Homo sapiens: one gene and its partners. The protein of the gene in region 3 purifies or fractionates together with the protein of the main gene of each other region. This does not show direct contact. Each region holds a gene or a part of one and is shown on either strand. Other genes may lie near its edges.

Evidence for each region.
Region 1: the proteins of H2BW1 (region 3) and TRO purify together in Homo sapiens (affinity purification with mass spectrometry; one large-scale study listed by BioGRID and IntAct). This does not show direct contact.
Region 2: the proteins of H2BW1 (region 3) and MACROH2A1 purify together in Homo sapiens (affinity purification with mass spectrometry; one large-scale study listed by BioGRID and IntAct). This does not show direct contact.
Region 4: the proteins of H2BW1 (region 3) and HSPG2 purify together in Homo sapiens (affinity purification with mass spectrometry; one large-scale study listed by BioGRID and IntAct). This does not show direct contact.
Region 5: the proteins of H2BW1 (region 3) and MAP1S purify together in Homo sapiens (affinity purification with mass spectrometry; one large-scale study listed by BioGRID and IntAct). This does not show direct contact.

The regions. Positions count from the first base shown.
Region 1 is NC_000023.11:54,927,319-54,930,833, forward strand, and holds part of TRO (trophinin), read left to right. Parts: exon of another isoform or gene 1-117; intron 118-348; coding exon 349-463; intron 464-1,284; coding exon 1,285-3,515. UniProt on the Homo sapiens protein: Could be involved with bystin and tastin in a cell adhesion molecule complex that mediates an initial attachment of the blastocyst to uterine epithelial cells at the time of the embryo implantation. Directly responsible for homophilic cell adhesion.
Region 2 is NC_000005.10:135,392,731-135,396,245, reverse strand, and holds part of MACROH2A1 (core histone macro-H2A.1), read left to right. Parts: intron 1-3,515. UniProt on the Homo sapiens protein: Variant histone H2A which replaces conventional H2A in a subset of nucleosomes where it represses transcription. Nucleosomes wrap and compact DNA into chromatin, limiting DNA accessibility to the cellular machineries which require DNA as a template.
Region 3 is NC_000023.11:104,010,903-104,015,138, reverse strand, and holds H2BW1 (histone H2B type W-T), read left to right. Parts: upstream 1-1,430; 5' UTR 1,431-1,562; coding exon 1,563-1,969; intron 1,970-2,390; coding exon 2,391-2,427; 3' UTR 2,428-2,449; intron 2,450-3,675; 3' UTR 3,676-3,992; downstream 3,993-4,236. UniProt on the Homo sapiens protein: Atypical histone H2B that can form nucleosomes structurally and dynamically indistinguishable from those containing conventional H2B.
Region 4 is NC_000001.11:21,825,796-21,829,310, reverse strand, and holds part of HSPG2 (basement membrane-specific heparan sulfate proteoglycan core protein isoform b precursor), read left to right. Parts: intron 1-231; coding exon 232-476; intron 477-884; coding exon 885-1,056; intron 1,057-1,158; coding exon 1,159-1,281; intron 1,282-1,391; coding exon 1,392-1,448; intron 1,449-3,515. UniProt on the Homo sapiens protein: Integral component of basement membranes. Component of the glomerular basement membrane (GBM), responsible for the fixed negative electrostatic membrane charge, and which provides a barrier which is both size- and charge-selective.
Region 5 is NC_000019.10:17,722,468-17,725,982, forward strand, and holds part of MAP1S (microtubule-associated protein 1S), read left to right. Parts: intron 1-1,658; coding exon 1,659-1,741; intron 1,742-2,581; coding exon 2,582-2,722; intron 2,723-3,361; coding exon 3,362-3,515. UniProt on the Homo sapiens protein: Microtubule-associated protein that mediates aggregation of mitochondria resulting in cell death and genomic destruction (MAGD). Plays a role in anchoring the microtubule organizing center to the centrosomes. Binds to DNA. Plays a role in apoptosis.

The DNA of each region.
Region 1 (3,515 bases), about 49 Mb from region 3:
GCAGAGGGCCTTAAGAATGGCTCCTCTGTTTACAACACACCCAACAGGAATCTGGGCTTACTCCTCACAGGTGGCATGATACTTTGGCCTTCCTGTGACATCATGCCCTATACATGTCTCCCCTGGAGAAGCCCAAGGGACTGCTTTGCACAGGGCCAGTGGGAAATGGCTCAGTATTGGAGGCCAAGACCATAAACTGTGTTTGGTAGTGAGTCTGGGGCTGGAGGGTCTTAGAAATCCCTCTCCAGGGGCTGTTTGTATTTGTTTGGAGGAGGTTGCCACCTGGTGTCTAGTGCTTAGACAGCAGGGTTGCTTGGTTAGAAACAAGTTTCATTTCCTTTTTCCAAGGTACCTGGAGTACAAGAGGGTCCCTAACAGCAGACCACCTGAATATGAGTTCTTCTGGGGCTTGCGCTCCTACCACGAGACTAGCAAGATGAAAGTCCTCAAGTTTGCATGCAGGGTAAGAGGAGAGCTGCCCGAGCTTGGCATATTAAGGCAATGGGATACCCTTGGCTGGGGCAGGCAATGCACAGGGATGGGCAGGTACAGAGCAGCCTGCAGCTCATATATAAACATGTGGAGCCTCCTTTATGTCCCAGGGTGCTGCTAGATATATAGTTTACATCATCTCATTCATTCTTCATACTTTGTATTAATCAGCATGGGCTGCCATAACAAAATACCATAGACTGGGTGGATTAAAAAACAAATTTATTTTCTCATAGTTCTTGAGGGCGAGAATCCTAGGTCAGGGTCCACGAGGGTCAGTTCCTGTTGAAGGCTCTCTTCCTGGCTTGCAGATGGCTGCCTTCTTGCTGTGTCCTCACATGGCTTTGTGTGTGAGAGAGAAGAGAGCAAGCTTTCTGGTGTCTCTTCTTATAAGGACACTAATCCTGTTGATCAGGACCCCACCCTTATGGCCTCATTTAACCTTAATTATCTCCATAAAGGCCCTATCTCCAAGTACAATCACACTGGGTGTTAGGGATTCAACATACGAATTTGGGGGCGGGCACAACCCTTCAGTTCATAACATATTTACGCTCTATCATTTCCTGTAATTATAAAGACACTTAGGCTAAGTGAGGTTAAGTAACTTGTCCAAGGTCATATAGCACGTAAGTCAGCAGAGCTGAAACTGGAGTTCAGAACTGACCCATGATAGAGCCCCAATAACTGAGAAGTTTAAAAAAGTATTGCTACTAGTTTAATACAAAGCCCGTAGGTTAATACATGATTACTAGGGTTGTTTTCTTATTATGATTATCATCCCCATTTCAGGTGCAGAAGAAAGACCCCAAGGACTGGGCTGTGCAGTACCGCGAGGCAGTGGAGATGGAAGTCCAAGCTGCAGCTGTGGCTGTGGCTGAGGCTGAAGCCAGGGCTGAGGCAAGAGCCCAAATGGGGATTGGAGAGGAAGCTGTGGCTGGGCCCTGGAATTGGGATGACATGGATATCGACTGCCTAACAAGGGAAGAGTTAGGCGATGATGCTCAGGCCTGGAGCAGATTTTCATTTGAAATTGAGGCCAGAGCCCAAGAAAATGCAGATGCCAGCACCAACGTCAACTTCAGCAGAGGAGCTAGTACCAGGGCTGGCTTCAGCGATGGTGCTAGTATTAGCTTCAATGGTGCACCCAGCTCCAGTGGTGGCTTCAGTGGTGGACCTGGCATTACCTTTGGTGTTGCACCCAGCACCAGTGCCAGCTTCAGCAATACAGCCAGCATTAGCTTTGGTGGTACACTGAGCACTAGCTCCAGCTTCAGCAGCGCAGCCAGCATTAGCTTTGGTTGTGCACACAGCACCAGCACTAGTTTCAGCAGTGAAGCCAGCATTAGCTTTGGTGGCATGCCTTGTACCAGTGCCAGCTTTAGTGGTGGAGTCAGCTCTAGTTTTAGTGGCCCACTCAGCACCAGTGCCACTTTCAGTGGTGGAGCCAGCTCTGGCTTTGGAGGCACACTCAGCACCACGGCTGGCTTTAGTGGTGTACTCAGCACTAGCACCAGCTTTGGCAGTGCACCCACAACGAGCACAGTCTTCAGTAGTGCGCTTAGCACCAGCACTGGCTTTGGAGGCATACTCAGCACCAGTGTCTGTTTTGGTGGCTCTCCCAGCTCCAGTGGTAGCTTTGGTGGTACACTCAGTACCAGTATCTGCTTCGGTGGCTCTCCCTGCACCAGCACTGGCTTTGGAGGCACACTTAGCACCAGTGTCTCCTTTGGTGGCTCTTCCAGCACCAGTGCCAATTTTGGTGGTACACTAAGTACCAGCATCTGCTTTGATGGCTCTCCCAGCACTGGTGCTGGCTTTGGTGGTGCTCTCAACACCAGTGCCAGCTTTGGCAGTGTGCTCAACACCAGTACTGGTTTTGGTGGTGCTATGAGCACCAGTGCTGACTTTGGCGGTACACTAAGCACCAGTGTCTGCTTTGGTGGCTCTCCTGGCACCAGTGTCAGCTTTGGCAGTGCACTCAACACCAATGCTGGTTATGGTGGTGCTGTCAGCACCAACACTGACTTTGGTGGTACACTAAGCACCAGCGTCTGTTTTGGTGGCTCTCCCAGCACCAGTGCTGGCTTTGGTGGTGCACTCAACACCAATGCCAGCTTTGGCTGTGCCGTCAGCACCAGTGCCAGCTTCAGTGGTGCTGTCAGCACCAGTGCTTGCTTCAGTGGTGCACCAATCACCAACCCTGGCTTTGGCGGTGCATTTAGCACCAGTGCTGGCTTCGGTGGGGCACTTAGTACCGCTGCTGACTTCGGTGGTACTCCCAGCAACAGCATTGGCTTTGGTGCTGCTCCCAGCACCAGTGTCAGCTTTGGTGGTGCTCATGGCACCAGCCTCTGTTTTGGTGGAGCTCCCAGCACCAGCCTCTGCTTTGGCAGTGCATCTAATACTAACCTATGCTTTGGTGGCCCTCCTAGCACCAGTGCCTGCTTTAGTGGTGCTACCAGCCCTAGTTTTTGTGATGGACCCAGCACCAGTACCGGTTTCAGCTTTGGCAATGGGTTAAGCACCAATGCTGGATTTGGTGGTGGACTGAACACCAGTGCTGGCTTTGGTGGTGGCCTAGGCACCAGTGCTGGCTTCAGTGGTGGCCTAAGCACAAGTTCTGGCTTTGATGGTGGGCTAGGTACCAGCGCTGGCTTCGGTGGAGGACCAGGCACCAGCACTGGTTTTGGTGGTGGACTGGGCACCAGTGCTGGCTTCAGTGGCGGACTGGGCACCAGTGCTGGCTTTGGTGGTGGACTGGTCACTAGTGATGGCTTTGGTGGTGGACTGGGCACCAATGCTAGTTTCGGCAGCACACTTGGCACCAGTGCTGGCTTTAGTGGTGGCCTCAGCACCAGCGATGGCTTTGGCAGTAGGCCTAATGCCAGCTTCGACAGAGGACTGAGTACCATCATTGGCTTTGGCAGTGGTTCCAACACCAGCACTGGCTTTACTGGCGAACCCAGCACCAGCACGGGCTTCAGTAGTGGACCCAGTTCTATTGTTGGCTTCAGCGGTGG
Region 2 (3,515 bases), on a different chromosome or scaffold from region 3:
AACTTTTCTCTAAATAGCCTTCCGTGAGACTGGTTATCTTAAGAGTTTGGCACAACCTTTAAAAGAGAGAGGAGTATGTAGAAAAGTTTTTTTGTAAAGCAGGCAGGCAGTAACTTGCTGTTAAAATGTAGCAAGCTGCACAGTTCCTTCAGTGCATCTCGGGAAGCGCATCACCGAATGGGTTTGCAGAGGTGAAATTTCAATCCCAGACTAGCTTCCCCAAAACTGTTTCTTGCTTGTGGTAAATGACATTTGTGTTTGTGTTTTGTTTCTTCCTGCCACTGAAAACATAACAGGAGTAAGACACATCTGCTGGAACAAAATGCATGGTTTATGATTTATTTACTATCTCAGTTGGTCTGTCTCTTCTGTTTGCAGTCCCCTAGTTCACTGAGAGTGGACTGTAGGTTCTTTAATCATCTGGCTCACTTTTTGATATGGTGTTTTATGAATGGAGAGAGATATTTTTCCTGATTGGCTAGAATACTAGAACAGGTCTCTGATCCAAGCCAATCAGAGTGCAGCTTGTGAACCCCAGCTCTGTGAGCAATGGTTGTCTAGTATATCCACATGCCTCTGGGGACATGACAGCGGGTGACACCGTTAATCATTTGGTGTGATAGGAGTAAACGGAAGAGGGAAGAGAATGCTGTAAACAGGATTAGTGTCTTGTCCTTCAGAATTAAGTTTCTCAGGTTGGCCTTTGTGATTGGAGTTGATGGGAAGGTGACAAATGCATGTGGATATGCGGGCATTTATCCAGCTGCCAGAATGGATGGCGTGGTTCTTCCTCATCAGCAGTTATTTGAGCACTGATAGCTCAGACTCCTCTATCCTCAGGGGCTGGAGATAGGGCTCTTTGACTAGCAACTCCCCAGCAGTTCTAATCAATATTGCATGGGATCAATAGGCATGTATTCATTGCTTAGATAATAAAATACTTCATGATTGACTATTCCAGCGGTTTCATGAGTGCCCTGATTGTTTAAGGGGTTTCTGTGCTGTAGCTTAAACAGGAGTCAATCTCTTATAGATGTGAGGAAGGTTAAGTATTTTCCTGCAGTCTATGGTACTGAGCCAGAGGCAGGAGGAGAGGTCACTGGAACCATAGAACTGTCACAGAGTCATAAGGCCTCAGTGTGCCTTATGCCCAGCTATCAGGGCAATTGGAGTGTTCCTTTCCTGAGAATCCCCAAGGTAGCTCTACAAGCTCCCTGAATTTTGAGTGTCTGGGCTCCTATAGGGATTTTGCCAGGTGTATGTACATGAATGTCCAAGAGAAGGTCTCTGATTGGTGTCCCACTAGCCATAGCTCCCAGTCCTGTGGGCTTTGGAAATGCTGCCCTCTCCTTTCTCCCTATCCACTGTCAGTGCCAACTAATCAGCTACCTTGTAGCTGGCATGTGCATGTCTACCGGGTGCCAGGCAGGGTGGTGGGTGCTTGGAGATACAGTGGTGAGTAGAGCAAATTGGTTCGTTTCATCAAGACAGACAGGTAAATAGGCAATGATGATACCATGCACTGAGTGCTAAGAATGGGATAGCTGGTTTCAGAACTTATATGTAAATGGGATCTAGAGTGACTGGCAATCATGATGGAAGGAAGGGCTGGAAACTGCATTTGCAGAGTACTGTATATAAGACTAAGAAAAATAATTGAGTATATTAAAGAATAGGGGCAGCCTGAGGGAGATTGTGAGGCACTTTTAGCTGGGCCCTGGGTCTGCAGCTGCCACATCCATTGAGGGAACTGGGAGGGAGAAATTCATCCCGGTGGATCTCTGGTTGTTGCAAATAGAGAGATGTGTTGGAGGTCAACAGGGCCTGTGCACAAGGTTGGAGTCTGGACATGCAGCTGCCCCAAACTAGACTGTGACTGACAGAAGGCATGGCCATGGCAGGAATGCAGAAGAGGGAGCACATTGATGGATCATTGCCAGGGAAGGTATTGGGACCAGTAGGCAGGATTACTCCAGACAAAGGGCTAGAGAGATGTTCAGACTGAGCATGCTGGGTGTGCTGAAGGTGCCAGTGGGAATGAAGGTGGTTTGCAGTGCAGGGAGCAGCCTGTTAGGATGCCTGCTGGGAAGGGATAGGAGGGTGTGGCAGGGCCTCCATGGCACTTTGGTTCTTTGCCCCTACTGCCCCTCCTAGTAGTACACAGCTTGTTGTTCTCATGTCCACCTTATTCATGGGGTCTACATAGCCAGCCTTCTAATTAGTCCTGTGCTAAAAGAACTGACTGCGTTGCTCCAGTCGCATCTCGATTGCTGAGGGGCCTGTGGTCAGACTCTGTTGCTTCTCACTGTAGCCTGACTCATCTCTCCATCCAGCTCCTCTATAAAAGTTTGTCTTTGGGTAAGCTTTGAGGTTTTATAAACAAAGTTAATGTTTATTGTGATTTATAATTGGAAGAGTTGCAGAAATAAAGACCACAGAGATCCCTTCAAGATCAATCACAGAACCTTCATTTTCTAGGCCAATAACAGCCAAAAGGGCAGTCAAGCTAATGTGCAATGATGAACAGACACAGTTGCCTGAGGACCTATCATTGTTTTCAAAGCATGCAGAGCCATGAGTGAAGCCTCCTGGTTTACTGAAGGAAGGAAGAACACATCTTTGTCAAGTTTGACCAGATAGTATAGCTGTTCTCCTGTGACCAGCTTCACTGCCCTGCAGAGGTGATGAGTGCTTAGGAAGCTGCTTTGTCTATGATGTAGGGCTGTCTGTTTCTCAAACAAGGCTGGATGCAGAACATGGGTCAAACAGGGCCCAACAGGTTTTGGGTGGTAACTCATTCTGGGGTTAGGGTCAGCGTTCAGATTGGTTTATCATGTGACAGAGACTGGCTGTTTCCTCTTTTCTTCTGAGTAAATAGCCAGAGTACATTTCCCAACCTCTCTTGCAATTAGTTGTGGGCATGTGACTAAGTTCTAGTTGATGGATCATGGTCAGAAGTGATGTGCCCCATTTGCAGGCCTGGCCCCTTAAAACCCTCATAGGTTATTATCCATGGTCTTTTTCTTTCCATGGCAACCCTGGGAATCATGTATTGAAGATGTGAGAGTAACAAGATGGGAGGCATCTGGATCCATGAATCACTATGTGGACAAGAAACACCAGCCAATCATGGAAACCCATTTTGGATTTTTCGGGAGTGAGAAATAAGTTGTAGAGACTTATCTGTTACAGCAGCTAGCAATGTCTTCAGCGCAAATGTCCAAGATCTGTTCTGCAAGAAGATGGCCTTTTTTCATCTTATTCACATTATTGTTTTTGTTAACTACTGAGAACTTGCCCAGTGAGTGAGTATCAGGCCCTTACATGGATGCTTTGATTCACTTCTGCCACCAACTCTTTGAGGCCCTTACTAGCATCATCTCCACTTGAAAGATAAGAAAATAGGTTCAGAGGGGTTAAATCACTTGCTCAAAAATGCACAGCCAGTAAGCGGCAGAGCCATGGTTATAATCAGGTCAGTCTGGCTTTGGACTTCTAGTTTTTAATTATAATGC
Region 3 (4,236 bases):
GATGGGAACATCCTGTGAGAGCAGCTCATGCCATAGTCACCACTGGCTCAGGCAATAAAGGCTTTCCAGCCCTTGAGGCACCACAAGCCATGGCTGAAAGTGTGGGGAGGTGACCCGGAAATGAACCAGTGAGAGCCTCCCTGGGAGGTTTAACCTTGCAGATTGTGAAGAAAAACGATGTGGCTCTTTCCCTGTTTTTTGTTTGCTTTTTTTTTTTTAAGAAAAATATCATGCTGACTTACTGATATGAATACAGAGATTGTTGTGGACAGGTCTCTTGTGCCTTGTACCAAACTACGAGAAGGATTGTCTTGCTAAACGTTTAAGTAGATTTATAAGATCATCATTTGTAAAGGGGACTGTTCAGAAATGGTGTACTAGAGTTCAGTCACAGAGCTTACCATATACGATCTTATCTAACAACAAAAATGAGCCTTTTTGTCCTTCTTAATCGTGAACCAATTTATTAGGAGTAGAATAAGTTGTTTGCTAAAGACATGACAGGAAATACACTTGAAAGCCTGACCTTTGAAATGACAGTTCATCGATGACCTTTATTTCTTCAGCATTTCTTAAGAATCTTTCTTGTTCAATTCCTGCAACTTAATGTTACTTAAATGCATTTAAGGAATGCCTTTGCGTATATTATCAGAGACTCTTGAAAGCTCTCTTTCTAACTTGAACATAATTTCCATTTCTGGAATCCCTTTCTCTCCCTCAGGGGCTTCCTAGGAGATTTAAGGCGATATTTTTTAACCCAATATCTCTTAAACTTATTAGCCATTTCCAGCTTTTGAGTTGTGATTTGTGGTTGTTGTTTTGCTTTCCTTTTTTTTTTTTTAATTATTTTTTTAAACCTGGTCGATGTCGAGTGTTGTCATATGTTTTTAATAAAAGTGCCTTTCTGTTTCTATTGTCTGCTTGGAGGCTGGGGTATGGCCATTTCTCATTCTCCTGATTCACGGAAGATGTTGATCAGTACTGAAGCCCGGAGCCAGACCGCTAGGTCCTTTGATGCCCAGGCGGCCATGTCAGGGAGTTCCTGCTCAAGCCAGGGTGGCTTAGCCCAGGATAACAGTAGCTTCTGAGATGGGTGACAATTGTTCCACACGTGGCCACAGTCATTCTTCCGGCATAATGGACTTGGGCTCAGGAGGTCTGTCTCTCCTCAGGGATCATGAGCTGAAATTGCTAAACTTTGGGAGTTTTCAGTGACACCCTTCAAAGTGCTCACAGTGTGGCATGGATCAGCTGAGAAGGGCGGATGCGCTTTTGCCCCGTGAGGCATCTATCTGTGTAACTTTCTCCGAGCTGGGCCACAAGGGGCGCTTAGGCCCGCAGACGCCCACTGTGATTGGTTGACGAGATGCCACGCAACGGGACCATCCAGTCACCTTCAACGCAGGTAGGTTTGCTGAGAGGCTCCCTGCGTGACACTTCATCCAATCAGACGTGAAGCTGGCCCGAGACGTGGAGCCATGCTGCGTACCGAAGTGCCCCGGCTTCCCCGGTCCACAACCGCCATTGTCTGGTCGTGCCATCTAATGGCCACTGCCTCCGCCATGGCTGGACCTTCCTCTGAGACGACCTCTGAGGAACAGCTGATCACCCAGGAGCCCAAAGAGGCCAACTCCACTACGTCCCAGAAGCAGAGCAAGCAGAGGAAGCGAGGGCGCCATGGGCCCCGCAGGTGCCACTCCAACTGCCGCGGGGACAGCTTCGCCACCTATTTCCGCCGGGTGCTGAAGCAGGTTCACCAGGGCCTCAGCCTTTCCCGGGAGGCCGTGAGTGTCATGGATTCTTTGGTTCATGACATATTGGACCGCATCGCCACCGAGGCTGGTCACCTGGCCCGCTCCACCAAGCGCCAGACCATCACTGCCTGGGAGACCCGGATGGCTGTGCGCCTGCTGCTGCCGGGGCAGATGGGCAAGCTCGCCGAGTCCGAAGGCACGAAGGCTGTCCTCAGGTACACCAGGAGCAAGTGCGCTCCCTCAGGAGCACCCGAGCACCACGGGAACCCAAAGGGTCTTTTCAGAGCCACTGAATGTGGCCTGAAAGACCAGTGGCTCGCCAAGGGGGACACCACCGGAGGCTGGGGTGGGTGGTGCCCTTCCGACTTGGGGGGCATGTGGCGTGTGGCATCCTGCAATGTTTCAAGCATTTTCCCCTCAGTACTAAACATTGTCAGCTCCAATATATCTGTAGTGCAGTTTGCTCCAAGGAAAAATAGTGGGTGTTTCCGTGATCGTGTTTCATTTCCTCAGTTTCGTAAACGGTCATTTTTGTTAGTTATGTTTCTAGGCTATCTATATGGTGATATTATTACTGCACTGATCTTTACCTTTTTCTGTCTCATTCTCCTGTGACTGGATGGTGGAATTTTCCAGAACTTCACTGTATGCCATACAGCAACAGAGAAAGTGAATACGCTGATACAAGAAGCAAGGTAACCCTCCTAAATGTTTTCAACACCGCTCCCATCACGAATCCATGTAAATAAGCAAATGAGGCCAAGTTACAGTGTACATACAGCTAAATAAAATTTTCAAGAATCCGTTCATTTTCCAGCTTCCTCGACTCTGAGATCACTATTGCAGTTCATTCTTTTTTTGCCATGACGATAATCTTTTCGTTTCTTTTTAAACAGAAACCTTCGTTACTTCCAGGTTTGTGTCAGTAGGCTTAGGGAGTGTCCACAGAAATGGCTCATGCCCTAGTGTTCAGTGGTGTAGCCAATGAGTGACTTGCAGTCTATGAGCAACAGTCATTGTCCCAGTGTGGGGGCAGTGAACCAGGCTGAACCCACAACAGCCTTGCACTGATATGCAGTCTGGTGTTTGGGGGGACAGGGTTGTGATTCTTTACCTGATGTTTTTGTTTTCAGTGTTTGTAATCATGGTCATTTAAGGATATGAATCCAGTGCTAGGAGTAGTATATGTTCCTTGCCCCTAGCATCAAGTTATGCAGAGGATGGTCAGCCTTTAGGAGAAGTCAGATAACGCTTATTTCCTCAAGAGATTTGCATATTAATATTCATGTTAATGTTAATATAGGTTAGCTTTCATTGTGCTTTCTTCTGGGTCCCAAGTCTTTGTATTTTTAGCACTTTTTCCTATGAGTGTATTGTTGAATTTCAGAGCAGCTGCTGACTTTCCCATTGCTTTTCTTTTCAGAGGATCTCCAGCCGCCCGAGTATGTGGACCAGAGAACATACTCTGGGATTGCGACCCATAGGAATTTATTGTATTGTGCCTTGAAGCTCAATATGTGGCCATTTTTGTCAAATGTTTCCCGTGAATTTTGAAACATCTCATAAACAACCTTTCTCCTTCATATGTAGAAACCAGTAAAGGGTGACACTCTCAGTCAAACCATGAAACAAAAGCTGGGAAAATGACAAAAATCAAAATTTTCTTGAGCCCATCAGAAGTGGGAAAGAACCACACCAGATGGCCCAACACATAGCCACATAGATTATTCCACCTTTGGCAGAGGACCGTTTGGTCAAGAGGGAAATGGGGGCATGGCAGGATAGTAGCCAGAGCTTCCCTGAGTAGTGCATTTGGGCAGCGTGGGCAGTTCACCTCCAGAGCTCCACTTGGGCTCCGTAGAGAAAGGATGTAGGGCCAAGAAGTCCCCTCATTGGGATTTGCTACTTTCTGTTTTTGCAGAATATTAGAAAAATGTCATGAAAATAGTTGAAGAGAAATGCTCACTGCACAAGGAGACCAAGAAAAACCCCCCACGAAATCAGCCACAACTAAATCGCTCTGGACGGTGCCGCCAGGTGACCCTACATGTCCGGAGCAACACTTTGAAAACCAAAGACGCTTGGCAGAACCCTGTTCCTTTCCAGAGACAGAGCTGTGTACCTTGTCTAAAACACCGCATCTCACTCAGTGACTTATTTCTCATTATGCTAATTGTTTTCGCTTTAAAGCGCCAGTCTTTCTGTCAAATGGGACATACAAATAAATTTCTAAAATTATCCTTGCATGTCTACTGGGTAATTTGACATGTCTTTTTCAGAAACCGTATCCATTGGGATATTTTACCCTGGAGTGTGTGTTTTCCATTTGTAAATTCAGAAATGAATGAGGAGCATTAGTAAAACAGCGTTAACAATGAACTCTGATTGGGCTGTGGGGAGTGAAGAGTGAGAGTTCAAGGGGACTGATGCCGGTGAGTTATAGGAAGAAAGAGAAAAAGGCTGCTTTGATGTGAAGATGGGC
Region 4 (3,515 bases), on a different chromosome or scaffold from region 3:
GGAGGCATGGGAGGATAAATGCAGGGATCAGGGCAAGTCCCCTCTTCCTGTGCATTTCGTCTCTGTGTCACTTGAGGCCAATCCCTAGCCCTCTCTGAGCCATGGGCTCCTCATCTGGAATACAGAAGGCTGTAGGGCATTCCCCATCTGCTCAGGGCCCTGTTTGTGGTGGAGAGGGCAGGGAGCCCCGTGTGCCCCCATGTGCCCAACCCTGCCTGGCATCCTCCCCAGGGCTGGCCGTTCTGCGGAGCGCCGAGCCGCTGGCCCTGGGCCGCTGGCACCGTGTGTCTGCAGAGCGTCTCAACAAGGACGGCAGCCTGCGGGTGAATGGTGGACGCCCTGTGCTGCGCTCCTCGCCCGGCAAGAGCCAGGGCCTCAACCTGCACACCCTGCTCTACCTGGGGGGTGTGGAGCCTTCCGTGCCACTGTCCCCGGCCACCAACATGAGCGCTCACTTCCGCGGCTGTGTGGGCGAGGTAAGAGCAGCCTCCTCGGGACAAGCGGGAGGGGAGGGGTGCCAAGCCTTGTGTCCCCCTCGGCTCTCCAAGCACCTTGGCATTGGGCCCCTCCACCTGCAGCCACCCACGGGCCCTGGGCCAGGACACTGTACCTCTGAGCCTCAGTTTCCTCCTCTGTAAAATGGGCATGATCACACCTACTTTGAAAGGTTGGGCAGAGGATTGTCTGCACTGACGGATGAATGTTTCTAGCACACAGTAGGCACTCAACTCCTGCGCCTCCCTCCCCACACCGAGAATCCATGCTACCACTCAGGGCCCAATGTGGGCTCCCAGCTCCCCTCTGCTGCATTCTTCTCCCTGCTGGTACACCTGGGTCTCTGCCTCCCAGGCCCCTTTAGTCCCTCGGTGTCCCTGTCCCCACAGGTGTCAGTGAATGGCAAACGGCTGGACCTCACCTACAGTTTCCTAGGCAGCCAGGGCATCGGGCAATGCTATGATAGCTCCCCATGTGAGCGCCAGCCTTGCCAACATGGTGCCACGTGCATGCCCGCTGGCGAGTATGAGTTCCAGTGCCTGTGTCGAGATGGATTCAAAGGTGGGAAAGCCTGCCCAGGGCACCGGAGGGGAGGGGCACAGGTGGTCAGCGACACCTCCAGCCCATGCCCACCCACCCACTCGCCTCTGCCCTGGCCCACAGGAGACCTGTGTGAGCACGAGGAGAACCCCTGCCAGCTCCGTGAACCCTGTCTGCATGGGGGCACCTGCCAGGGCACCCGCTGCCTCTGCCTCCCTGGCTTCTCTGGCCCACGCTGCCAACAAGGTACCCAGGCCTGGCTTCTCTCCACTTCATCTCTGTCTTGGGGCCCCGGAGCTCGACATAGTACCCACGGGTGTCTATGCCCACCAACTGGACCCTGCCCTTCTCCATAGGCTCTGGACATGGCATAGCAGAGTCCGACTGGCATCTTGAAGGCAGCGGGGGCAATGGTGAGTACTTGCCATGGCCTCCTCCCCAGCTTCAGCTCAGCTCACTCTTCCAGTTACCCCACACCCTCAATTCTGGCCTGCAAGCAAAACAGCTTTATATGAGGAGCTTGCTGGGCAGAGAGACAGAATGAAGACCACAGCCATGTGGAGCTAGGGCCTGCCCCACACTTACTGGCTGGGTGACCTTGGGCAGGCCTTTGAAACCACTCTGACCTCAGTTTCCTCCTCTGTATTCATGTATTCAGTCAACAAACTATTGTTGCCCATCCTTGCCCTGAGAGCAGTAAATATAAGATGCATAAAGCAAGACCCTCATTCCCAAGAATTCCACCGTCTACTGAAAAGCTAAGGAAACAGTGAAGAGTGAATGCTGATTGAATGTTTACGGACACTGTGCTAACCCCTTTACAGACACATCTCTTCTTATGTATCACTAATATAATAGGCGAGGCAGTGGTATAGTGGGTAAGAGTATAGACTTGGAGCCAGCCTGCTTGGGTTCAAATCCTAGCTCTCCCACTTACTAGCTGTGGAACTTTGGGTGAGTCGCTTAACCTCTCTGTGCCTCATATAAAATGGAGATGAGTAACATCTTTCCCTAAAGATTTGGATAAAATTTTATGTGAGAGTAAAATTACTTAGTGCATTTTTTTTTAAGGTGGAGTCTTGCTCTTTCACCCAGGCTGGAGTGCAGTGGCACAATCTCGGCTCACTGCAACCCCCGCCTCCCAGACTCAAGCGATTCTGCTGCCTCAGCTTCCTGAGTAGCTGGGATTACAGGTGCCTGCCACCACACCCCGCTAATTTTTGTATTTTTTGTAGGGATGGGGTTTCACCATGTTGGCCAGGCCTGTCTCTAACTCCTGACCTCAGGTGATCCGCCCCCCTTGGCTTCCTAAAGTGCTGGATTACAGGCGTAAGCCACCGTCCTAAAGTGCTGGATTACAGGCATAAGCCACCGCGCCCGGCCACTTAGTGCATTTTAAATGCCTAGAACAATGTGTGGTACAGAGTCAGTACAGAATGTTAGCTGTTGTTAATATTATGTTCAGCTGGCCGGGCACACTGGCTCACGCCTGTAATCCCAGCACTTTAGGAAGCTGAAGCGGGCAGATCACCTGAGGTTGGGAATTTGAGACCAGCCTGACCAACATGGAGAAACCCCATCTCTACTAAAAATACAAAATTAGCTGGGCGTGGTGGCACATGCCTATAATCCCAGCTACTCCGGAGGCTGAGGCAGGAGAATCGCTTGAACCTGGGAGGTGGAGGTTGCCATGAGCCAAGATTGCATGCACCATTGCACTCCAGCCTGGGCAACAAGAGCGAAACTCCCTCTCAAAAAAAAATACTATATTCAGCTGGGTATGGTGACTCACGCCTATAATCCCAGCACTTTGGGAGGCTGTGGCGGGCAGATTGCTTGAGCCCAGGAGTTCCAGACCAGCCTGGGCAACAAGGCGAAATCCTGTCTCTACAAAAAAATACAAAAAGTAGCTGGGCATGGTGGTGCTCATCTATGGTCCCAGCTACTCAGGAGACAGGCAGGAGGATTGCTTGAGCCCAGGAGTTCAAGATCAACCTGGGCAACACAGGGAGACCTCATCTCTACAAGAAATTTAAGAATTAGCTGGGTGTGGTGGCACATGGCTATGGTCCCAGCTGAGGCAGAAGGATCACTTGAGCCCAGGAGGTCGAGGCTGTAGTGAGCTACAATTGTGTCACTGCACTCTAGCCTGGGCAACAGACTGAGACCCTGTCTCAAAAAAATAAAAAATAAGGCTGGGTGCGGTGGCTCACACCTGTCATCCCAGCACTTTGGGAGGACAAGGTGGGTGGATCACCTGAGATCAGTTCGAGACCAGCCTGGCCAACATGGCGAAACCCCATCTCTACTAAAAATACAAAAATTAGCCAGGTGTGGTGGTGCACACCTGTAGTCCCAGCTACTCGGGAGGCCAAGGCAGGAGAATTGCTTGAACCTGGGAGGTGGGGGTTGTAGTGAACCAAGATTGTGCCACTGCACTCCAGCCTGGGCCACGGAGCGAGACTCCATCTCAAAAATAA
Region 5 (3,515 bases), on a different chromosome or scaffold from region 3:
GCCTGACATGGTGGCTCACACCTATAATCCCAGCACTTTGGAAGGCTGAGGTGGGTGGATCACCTGAGGTCAGGAGTTCGAGACCAGCCTGACCAGTATGGTGACACCCCATCTCTACTAAAAATACAAAAATTAGCTGGTTGTGGTGGCAAGCGCCTATAACCCCAGCTACTTGGGAGACTGAGGTTGGAGAATTGCTTGAACTCAGGAGGCAGAGGTTGCAGTGAGCTGAGATCGTGCCACTACACTTCAGCCTGGGCAATAGAGGGAGATTCCATCTCAAAAAAGAGAGAGAGAGAGAGGGAGGGAGGGAGGGAGGGGGAGAGGGAGGGAGAGAGAGAGAGAAAGGAAAGAGAAAGCTAAATGTGATAAGGGCGAGAGAGAGAGAAAGGGAAAAGAAGGAAAGAAAGGAAAGAAAGTTAAATGTGATAAGGGCTGGCAACACTGGAGGGTCTCTGCCTCTCAAGACTCAGCCTTGTTCACAGTTCAGTCCTGCCTCAGGGGCCTTGGCTGGTGCTGTACCCTGGTCCGGGTTGGCCCTCACCGGCCCCCACCCCGGCTCTGGCTCCTTGCCACCCCCCTCTCACAGTACTGATGTTTAAAACACATACGGGCCCTGGGGGACAGAGCAGGGTCAGGATCCCAGAAACAGCCCTACTTCAGCCCCGGCCCTTATGCTGCCCCACCCCTAGCTGAGTCCTGCCTCAGGACCTTTGCTCCGGATGTACCCTCGTCCACGTTCGCCCTCATTGGCCCTCCTCGAGCTCTGGCTCTCTGTCTGAAAAATAAATGTGGCCGGATGGGTGCAGTGGGTCAAGTCTGTAATCCCAGCACTTTGGGAGGCCGAGGCAGGCGGATCACCTGAGGTCAGGAGTTTGAGACCAGCCTGACCCACATGTTAAAACCCCGTCTCTACTAAAAATTGAAAAAATTAATGGGGCGTGGTGGCGTGTGCCTGTAATCCCAGCTACTCGGGAGGCTGAGGCAGGAGAATTGCTTGAACCCAGGAGGCGGAGGTTGCAGTGAGCCCAGGTTGCACTGTTGCACGCCAGCCTGGGCAACAAGAGCAAAACTCCGTCTCAAAAAAAAAGAAAAGAAAAAGGCCGGGCGCGGTGGCTCACGCCTGTAATCCCAGCACTTTGGGAGGCCGAGGCAGGCGGATCACGAGGTCAGGATATGGAGACTATCCTGGCTTACACGGTGAAACCCTGTCTCTACTAAAAATACAAAAACTTAGCCGGGTGTGGTGGCGGGCACCTGTAGTCCTGGCTACTCGGGAGGCTGAGGCAGGAGAATGGCGTGAACCCGGGAGGAGGAGCGGAGCTTGCAGTGAGCAGAGATTGCACCACTGCCCTCCAGCCTGGGCGACAGAGCGAGACTCCGTCTCACAAAAAAAAGAAGAAAATGGTGGCATCACTCCCAGGGGTGACAGCTGCAAACCAGGCCCTGCGCACGATGGGGCCCTCTGGTTACTGCCTCTCTTAGGCCAGCTGGGGTGGTTTGAGTTTCTCTTTCTTGCCTGGTCCTGACCTGCAGCTCTGCCGTGCGCCTGTTAATCTCCATATGATCCCTGGGTGGGTTCCCAGAGGGGTTCATGTTCCCTGAGGGTCACACGGGGAGGCAGGATTTGACTCCGGGACGGCCTGATTCCCCCACAGGCCAGCGGAGCCTGCACCACCGTGGAGACAACCTGGAGACCCTGGTCCTCCTGAACCCATCAGACAAGTCCCTGTATGATGAGGTAGGGAATGGCTGACGTCCTGGAGGGGGCGGGCTGCTGGGACCCGTGCCTTCTCTGTCTTCCTGTCTCGTGTCCTTGTCTTCATGCTGCCCCAGATCCTCTCAAGACACCCGGCACCACACTTCTTCGCCCACGAAGCCTTCCCTGTGGCTTCAGCCTCCGCTTCTTCCCTCCTCTGGGGTGGGAGCAGAAAAGCCTGGACTTTGGGAGGGAGGGGAGGGTAAGCACTCCCAGCTCAGGGCCCAGGACAGCGTGGGTCTGGAGGTGGGAAGGCCAGAGCAGACAGGTTTTCCTCCTGTGGGTTCCCTCCGGCTAGGCCCCAGGAGTTGTCTGAATCGACTCACTAACATTAACCAGCTTGTGGCCATCTGTACTCTACCAATTATACATCCGGAAGATGAACCAGACAGAGCCCTGGGGCATCCCACTACAGACCTTCTTACAGGTTGATTCCTTGGATCAACTTTTCCCTTTTGTTCCCTTGAGGGGCTCTCAGTCTTTAAGAGACAGAGTGAGACACAGACACCCCCAGCCCTGTGGCATCAGGGCTGGGCTGGAGGGAGAGGTGGACTAGAGAGAGCCCAGAAAGGGCAAGTAGTGCCTTCAGGAGGAAGGGACATCAGAGCTGGGCTTTGTAGGATGAATAGGAGTTTGCTAGGGTTGCTCCAGGGCCCAGCAGGAGACCTGGAGACTGCCTTCGTAGCTAGTTGAGCACTGGGCTGGTCGTGGGGTGAGGACAGGAGAGGGGTGGTTATGTATCGACTCGAGGCTACCCCAAAGAGGACTGCTGGATACGTCACTGCACAGAACGGGTCCTTTAGTGTTCACCCCCTCCCTCAGCTCCGGAACCTTCTGTTGGACCCTGCCTCTCACAAGCTACTGGTGTTGGCTGGGCCCTGCCTGGAGGAGACGGGGGAGCTGCTGCTACAGACAGGGGGCTTCTCGCCTCACCACTTCCTCCAGGTCCTGAAGGACAGAGAGGTAAGCCACCCCTTTGCCATCCCCTGCTTCCCCAGCTCTGAATCCTGACTGGGGTGTATCAGGCTGTGTGGCACCAGCGACCTGCTGTTTTCCATGGCCTGGTCTCCCCATCCTCTGTAGGATGGCAGTGGTGACACATGCCTCCTGGCTGTCTGGGGTCAGTCCCATTGCCCGCGAAAGGGTGTGGTGTGAGCTGAGTTTGTAGGTCAGCAGATGTCCCAAAGTCCTGATGAGGGATGGAGCCAAATGGGTCCTTCCTGGTGCCCGCAGTCTGGGTAGGACACATGGGCAAAATGGCAAACCTCACTTTCACATTGTAGTGGGGCACTTAAAAATGGTGAGAAAAGGTTCAGTAGACAGGTGGGGCGTGGAGAGTCTCCTTGGAGGGAGCTGTGCCCTGGGAGGAGAGAATGGTGAGTGTAAAGGCCCTGGGGCAGGGAGGCATTTGAAGGGGAGGGAGAGACAGGAGGTGAGGCCAGATCAAAGAGCCTTGTGGCGCTGGAGAGGGTTGGGTTTTGGCGGGAGGGCCCTGAGGAGCAGGCCCTGGGGGAAAGGATGAGGGTGTCCTCGCCCAGTTTTCCCACCGGGCTAGGTGTTGCCTGGCTCTAGGTGGTCCCTTACCACTCCTCCTCCATACAGATCCGGGACATCCTGGCCACCACGCCCCCACCTGTGCAGCCGCCCATACTCACCATCACCTGCCCCACCTTCGGTGACTGGGCTCAGCTGGCACCCGCTGTGCCTGGCCTTCAGGGGGCGCTCCGGCTCCAGCTGCGGCTGAACCCCCCGGCGC